Linked DNA regions of Homo sapiens. The protein of the gene in region 1 interacts with the protein of each later gene in a pairwise test. Each region holds a gene or a part of one and is shown in the gene's direction. Other genes may lie near its edges.

What was found. Proteins that work in one complex are often made in the same cells at the same time.
Region 2: the proteins of SEPTIN9 (region 1) and PTPRF interact in a two-hybrid assay, tested with the Homo sapiens proteins (one study listed by BioGRID).

The regions. Positions count from the first base shown.
Region 1 is NC_000017.11:77,399,999-77,403,498, forward strand, and holds part of SEPTIN9 (septin-9), read left to right. Parts: intron 1-2,060; coding exon 2,061-2,705; intron 2,706-3,500.
Region 2 is NC_000001.11:43,600,383-43,603,882, forward strand, and holds part of PTPRF (receptor-type tyrosine-protein phosphatase F isoform 1 precursor), read left to right. Parts: intron 1-1,688; coding exon 1,689-1,715; intron 1,716-3,033; coding exon 3,034-3,151; intron 3,152-3,228; coding exon 3,229-3,500. UniProt on the Homo sapiens protein: Possible cell adhesion receptor. It possesses an intrinsic protein tyrosine phosphatase activity (PTPase) and dephosphorylates EPHA2 regulating its activity.

The DNA.
Region 1 (3,500 bases):
AGACAGAGTCTCGCTCTGTCAGTCAGGCTGAGTGCAGTGACACGATCTCAGCTCTGCAACCTCTGCCTCCCGGGTTCAAGCGATTCTCCTGCCTCAGCCTCCTGAGTAGCTGGGACTATAGGCGAGTGTCACCATGCCCAGCTAATTTTTTATTTTTAGTAAAGATGGGGTTTCACCACATCAGCCAGGCTGCTCAGTGTTTTAAAAAGGGCTTGTTTTGCTTTGTGCCAGCATTTAAAGATCAGGAGATATCATATAAAGATCCAGATTTCTACTCTCTTGAGAAGTGAACAGCTCTGGCCACGCCGGGCCCATATCCTCTAGGGCAGTGACGGAGCTGAGACAGGGCCTGTGACAACTGAGAGTTCTCTGGAGTCCACACGGCTCCTTGCCCAGCTTCTGGTGGAGGTTGAGCTTAGTGACCCAGGATTTCGTCTGTGTCCACCAAGAAGGAGAGGTGCCTGTGGCTTAGAGAGGGCGCCCACAGGAGTGCCTTGCCCAGGAAGCTGGCAGCTGAGGCGGCCAGGGTTAGGGGGTTGGGCTTCCTCTTCCCCTCCCCAGTGCCTGAGTGCATTTGGAGGAAGAGAGACGGGTGAGGGGAAGGCACTGAAATTGGTCCTGGAGCGCTATTATTGGGGGCTGGGGACCAGCTGTCATCCCTTTTCCTGTGGGCAGGGGAGGCAGTGGTGGGATCCCATGAGACCCGGACTCTGTGGCCTGGTGAGGCAGGGAGCGGCTGGGGAGACACTGTGGGTCTCCACAGGGGTGCGCTGTGGGTCTGGCCTGGGGAAGGAGCTGGTGAATGTGCCTGCCATGTGGGTCCCTCCCTGCTCTGGCCCTGATAACCAGGAGCGGCTGGCTCTCATTTGGAGTGCGGTTGTGGGGACTGTGGAGGTGGCAGCTTCCCAGGTACCATCCCCACTGCCTCCGAGGGAGCAGACCCTGGTGGAGAGGCAGGATGGCTGCAGGGCGGGAGCTGGTGGTTGGCATCACTGCACGGGCTTGTAGTAGTGGATGGGAAGATGCAGGAGAGGCTGATGACTGAGAAAGTTGGTTCCTGTGGACTAAGCTGGGGGAGCCGGACAACCAAGTGGTTAGAACCTTGGGCTCTGGTATCAGCCTGATGTACAGTCTGGCTCTGTGTCTACCCCGTGCCCCACTTTCCCCATCTGTACTGGGGGTACTGGTATTCTTTACATCCCAGGGTTAAGCGGCTGCAGATGTGATGAGCTCGGTAGGCCCGGCGCCTCGCCGGCACTGAAAGCTCCAGTGTCCGCCCTTAGTGTCATTGATGGGGTTTTGTTCCTGCTGCGGTTCTGATTGGTTACAGTTGCGGTCACTTATTATTGGAGGCATGTCCCCCGCTGTGGCTGATGGTAGAGGTGTGTTTGCTGGTGGTGTCCCAGTGTGTGCCTTGGCTGGAGGTGAGGAGGGATAAAAACAGCCGCGACAAGAAGGAAATCAAGGCCGGGCACGGTGGCGCACGCCTGTAATCCCAGCACTTTGGGAGGCCGAGGCGGGTGGATCGCTTGAGGTCAGGAGTCCGAGACCAGACTGACCAACATGGTGAAACCCCATCTCTACTAAAAATACAAAAATTAGCCAGGCATGGTGGCCCGTGCCTATAATCCCAGCTACTGGGGAGGCTGAGGTAGGAGAATCGCTTGAACCCGGGAGGTGCCGCTGCACTCCAGCCAGGGCAACAGAGCAAGACTCCATCTCAAAAAAAAAAAGAAGGAAATAAAAGTCTTCTCTGGAACTAGAACGTTCCTATGTAGACGTAGCTGGAGGGGGAGGCTGTGTGGTTTGCGCCGTGGCCATGGCAAGACACGACGGGCAGCATCTTCCCACTCCAGCCTGCATCTCTGCCCCAGAACTCATGATGGTTCTCCTAGGATGGGGCTGTCCCTTCCGCTTGCTGAGACATGAAGGACGGGAAGAGACCCCCGGCCCTCACCGCCGCATCGCCTGCCTTCCTCTGCTGCTCCTTAGCAGGAAACATGCCGGAGTGTTCCCTAGCCATCCATTCACCAATTGCATCCCCTCTCTTTATTTTTCAGCCTTGAAAAGATCTTTTGAGGTCGAGGAGGTCGAGACACCCAACTCCACCCCACCCCGGAGGGTCCAGACTCCCCTACTCCGAGCCACTGTGGCCAGCTCCACCCAGAAATTCCAGGACCTGGGCGTGAAGAACTCAGAACCCTCGGCCCGCCATGTGGACTCCCTAAGCCAACGCTCCCCCAAGGCGTCCCTGCGGAGGGTGGAGCTCTCGGGCCCCAAGGCGGCCGAGCCGGTGTCCCGGCGCACTGAGCTGTCCATTGACATCTCGTCCAAGCAGGTGGAGAACGCCGGGGCCATCGGCCCGTCCCGGTTCGGGCTCAAGAGGGCCGAGGTGTTGGGCCACAAGACGCCAGAACCGGCCCCTCGGAGGACGGAGATCACCATCGTCAAACCCCAGGAGTCAGCCCACCGGAGGATGGAGCCCCCTGCCTCCAAGGTCCCCGAGGTGCCCACTGCCCCTGCCACCGACGCAGCCCCCAAGAGGGTGGAGATCCAGATGCCCAAGCCTGCTGAGGCGCCCACCGCCCCCAGCCCAGCCCAGACCTTGGAGAATTCAGAGCCTGCCCCTGTGTCTCAGCTGCAGAGCAGGCTGGAGCCCAAGCCCCAGCCCCCTGTGGCTGAGGCTACACCCCGGAGCCAGGAGGGTGAGTCGCAGAGCGCTAGGTCTTGGATGCTGTGGTAATGGGGGGCCTGGTTGCTGGCTTTGCCACAGAATCTTGGAGGAAGAAGCTGGATATGGGGTGGAGGGTGCTACCCTGGAGACCCAGAAAGACCGGAATGCATGGGGGTGGGGGTCTGCAAGCTCAGGAGAGGTGGCTCTCTCTGTCTGATGGGAACATGCCAAGATGCCCCAAGCGGGACTTGAATGAGAGTTTGGAAAGATTTTCTGGGTTTCAAGGAGCCTCCTTTATGGGTCACCGTGGGCCTTGCTGGGACCTCTGTCTGCTGTGTGTCCCTGGAGGGCCTGGGAGGCTTAGAGAATGAGGAGCCACGCAGGAACCAGGGCAGGCTCATGCAGGGGTGTAGGACAGGGTGGAGTTGAGACCCCTAGAAGGGCTGTCACATTCTGGTGGCTCCTGCTTGAGGAATTGCAGGCTGCCTGGATATGCCCAGCAGAGGCCGAGGGCTTGGGGAAGGGAGGAGGGACGTATGCCTCCTGAGGCTTGCATTGGAGCCCATGGTCTGGTCCTCCTCCCCCAGGAGGGATGGTTGTGGCAGAGGGAGGGGAACATGAGGAGCACCTTAGCCTGCAGGACAAAATTCTCAGGGCACTGGGAAGGGGTGCCTGGACCAGGGGGCTGTGTGATAGCTGCACACGGTTTTATTTGGGGGTGCCCTTCTGGCGAGAGGAGAGAGGCCATGGGGCTCCAGCAGCGTCCTGGGAGGGCTCAAGCCCACAGCCGTGCTGACATGGAGCTTACAGGCAGGGGATTGGTGCC
Region 2 (3,500 bases), on another chromosome or scaffold:
AGTCTCAGACATCCCATCATGGGGGCGGTAACTCGAGTCTGGGCTCCCGGAGGACACTGAAGATGGAGGCCTGCTCCGTAGCCCTCTCAGGACTGGGTCATTCTGTTCCTCGCCAGTGGGAGAGCAGTGGGGCCTGGTCCCGAGCGTGGCCACAGGGCCCAGCTGTCCCTGTGCTTCTGTCAAGGGCGGCACATTCTGTCCTTCACGCAACAGCACCATCCCCTCAGCTCATCCCCCATCATGCCTGAAGGAACTATGTGGTGCAGGTTCCCACCCCCAGCCTGGAAGTGTGGAGCCAGACCTGTCTCCTTTTACGTCAGATTCCATCTCCCTGCCTCCCTTTTTCCCCTCTCGTGGCCTGCATTTCTCTCTCCTTCTTGGAGTCTCTGTTTTTGTCTTGCTCTTTCTCTTCTCTCTCCTCCTTCCTTCCCTCCTCCCCCTGCCATTCCTCTGACCCCTTTCCTTCATCTCCATTTGGTTTCATCCTCCGTCCTTCCCTTCTTTCTTGCTCTGCCTCTAGCGCAGGACAGGGTCCATGTGATGTGAGAACCTCCACGCCAAGGCTTGGTTGGGACAGCCCAGGTCTCCCCGCAGGCAAGGAGACTGGAAGGGACGTGGGCCCAGCCACACCCTATAAAGTGGCCATGCACTAAGGACCTGTCCAGAGTCTCCTCTCATATTCTGTTCCATGCTTCTTGCAAGGACTTTCCAACAGAGTGTCCCAGGACAGGAGGAACTTAGGCCACCCAGCATGGAGGCCAGTGGACAGAGGCCAGACCGGCACTGTGGGGGTGCTTGGGCTGGAGGACCCCAGGTACTTCCGGCTTGGAGACATCCTGGACCATCTCCCTGTGATGTTTCATGGGGCCTCAGAATGGAGACCTCACAGTCCCTCCACCTGTCCATCTAGAATATCTACATGCACCAAAGGCCCGCAACACTGCCAGCCCCGAAACATTCCTTCCTACCTTAATCCTCAGACACCCCGAGGAAGGAACGGGTATAGGTGATTTCCCGTGCCTGTGGGCTACAGCCCAGGCTCTGAGCTTGGCACTCACAGCCTTCATAGTCTTGCTGACTGGCTTGCCCTTGGGCCCACCCTGGCCATGTGCCCTGTTCACCCCCAACTCTTACTGTTGTGGGACACTTCTCATGCCTGGGGTGATTGTGTAATGTATGATCACATCTGGGATGCTTTGGCGGGTGGAAGGAGACACTGAATAGTCAATTCCATGGCAACAAGCACAGGCCAGGACTGTCCGAGGCAAACCAGGGCATATGGGCACCCCATTCACCCCTCAGTGTCTTCCTTTCCCTTGGCCTGAGCTGTTGAACCCACCCTTCTTGTCTGGCAGCCTCTCCCTCCCAGCAAGCCCAAAATTGTCAGAGCATCTGTAGCTGCTTTGTGTTCTTAGGGCCTTCTGTCAGCGGGTCCTCTCCCTGCAGGCTGCCTGCCCTCCCTGTCTCCCTACCCTCCTCAGCCCTGGCACACCCAGTTGGTGCTCAGTGAGGCAGGGATTCAAATCTTTGAACCGGGAGTTGTTCTGGGGTGCTACCCCCATGGGTACTTTGAGGCCCAAAAGCCCTCCCTCTGTCCTCCCTGGGCAAGGTCCCTTCCAGGCCAGGCCCTCTCCAGGTCAGAGTCCTTCACCATCCTGTCTCCCTTTCTCTCCCTCTCCCGCGGTCAGTGGCGGCCAGAGGAGTCCGAGGACTATGTAAGTAACAGGTGTGCGAACGCGGACAAGACATGGGTCAAGCTGGGCTCGTGGGACGCTCCTCCTCTCCCTCCTTTCCTGCTAGCCTGCACTGCCAAGATCCACAGGGCTCTAGCCACATCAGGAGAAAATTGGCGTTTAGACACAAGCACTGAGCTGAGCAGCGATTGGCATTTCCTCTAATCCTTACTTCTTGCCTGTCGAGCAGCAATTTGAGGCCAGTGTTCATGATCGACCAGGGCCTGGCCCCTGCCCCGGCCAGACAGGGATGGAGTTAAATCCAATCCTGATCGTTAGGCCTTATTGATCCCTGGAGTGAAAAATCACCTGCTTTAGGGCCCAGGCTGGGAGGGCTGTCTGGAGAGTCGGATTCTGGCATTGGTGCATTCTGGAGCCCCAGCCCTGGGAGACCCTCCAGCTGTGGCAGGAGGGGTCCATGAGGGGGTGGTGGCAGCTGCAGGGGCCCCACTCAAGGCCAGAGCTGGAGGGATACCAGGGTTGATGACGGCTCTGTTCCCACTGCACGGTGGTCCCTGCCCTGCTTCCCACTCTTCTCTCTGTGTGGTGTGGCTTGACCTCCCATGGTGTTTCTCCGCATGTCCAGAGATGATGCCTTTGCTGCAGATGGGTATATGGGCAGGGTCTGCCAAGCGGGGAGGACATTGCCCTGGCTGCTGTCTCAGGCATCACTGAGAACAGATGTGGAAGCCAGTTCCCCAGGTGTGGAGGTTTTCTTATTCTCCTAGCCCCTCCCCTGCCTTTCTCAAGAGGTATTGCAGGGTATAGACATTCACAGAGTTAGTGGCCTATATGGGGGCAGCGGAGTCCTGACTGGGTCCTATAGGATGGCACCTTAGCCCATCCTGCCACCTTGCTCTGTCTGTGCATGCATGCACTGGTGTCCACAGGCAGCCTTACGCCTGCTTATGCAGGAGCTGTAGGCTGTGTGCGTGTGGCTGCCAAGAGCCACGCAAGGTGCTGGGTGCGTGCGAGGCTGTGCCCTGTTGATATCCTCAGTCTCCGTTCACAGCACAGTGGAGTGAGGGAAACAGTCTGGCCCTTTGTTCTTGTCTGAAAAGAATAATGAGCTGTCTGCCCCAGGCGTGCGGCTCCTGGGATGGGCGGGGTCCTCCCAGGCCTGCATCCTACCTGCCTGCTTCCTCTCCAGCAGAGGCCACCATTGTATAGCCCCACCTTCCACAACCCCTGGCCTTGTGTGCCCCGGGGCTCCCCTCAGGCTAGGGTCCTGAGGTCCCTGACAAGGTCTGGCCTCTCCCTGCATTCTTGTGATGGGAACGAACCCCTCCTCCTCCCTCAGGAAACCACTATCAGCGGCCTGACCCCGGAGACCACCTACTCCGTTACTGTTGCTGCCTATACCACCAAGGGGGATGGTGCCCGCAGCAAGCCCAAAATTGTCACTACAACAGGTGCAGGTGAGTGAGGGGTCAGGACGGACCTGAGGGTGGGGCAGCAGGAGGGCAGCGCCAGAGCCCAGCCCGTGGTCCTTCAGTCCCAGGCCGGCCCACCATGATGATCAGCACCACGGCCATGAACACTGCGCTGCTCCAGTGGCACCCACCCAAGGAACTGCCTGGCGAGCTGCTGGGCTACCGGCTGCAGTACTGCCGGGCCGACGAGGCGCGGCCCAACACCATAGATTTCGGCAAGGATGACCAGCACTTCACAGTCACCGGCCTGCACAAGGGGACCACCTACATCTTCCGGCTTGCTGCCAAGAACCGGGCTGGCTTGGGTGAGGAGTTCGAGAAGGAGATCAGGACC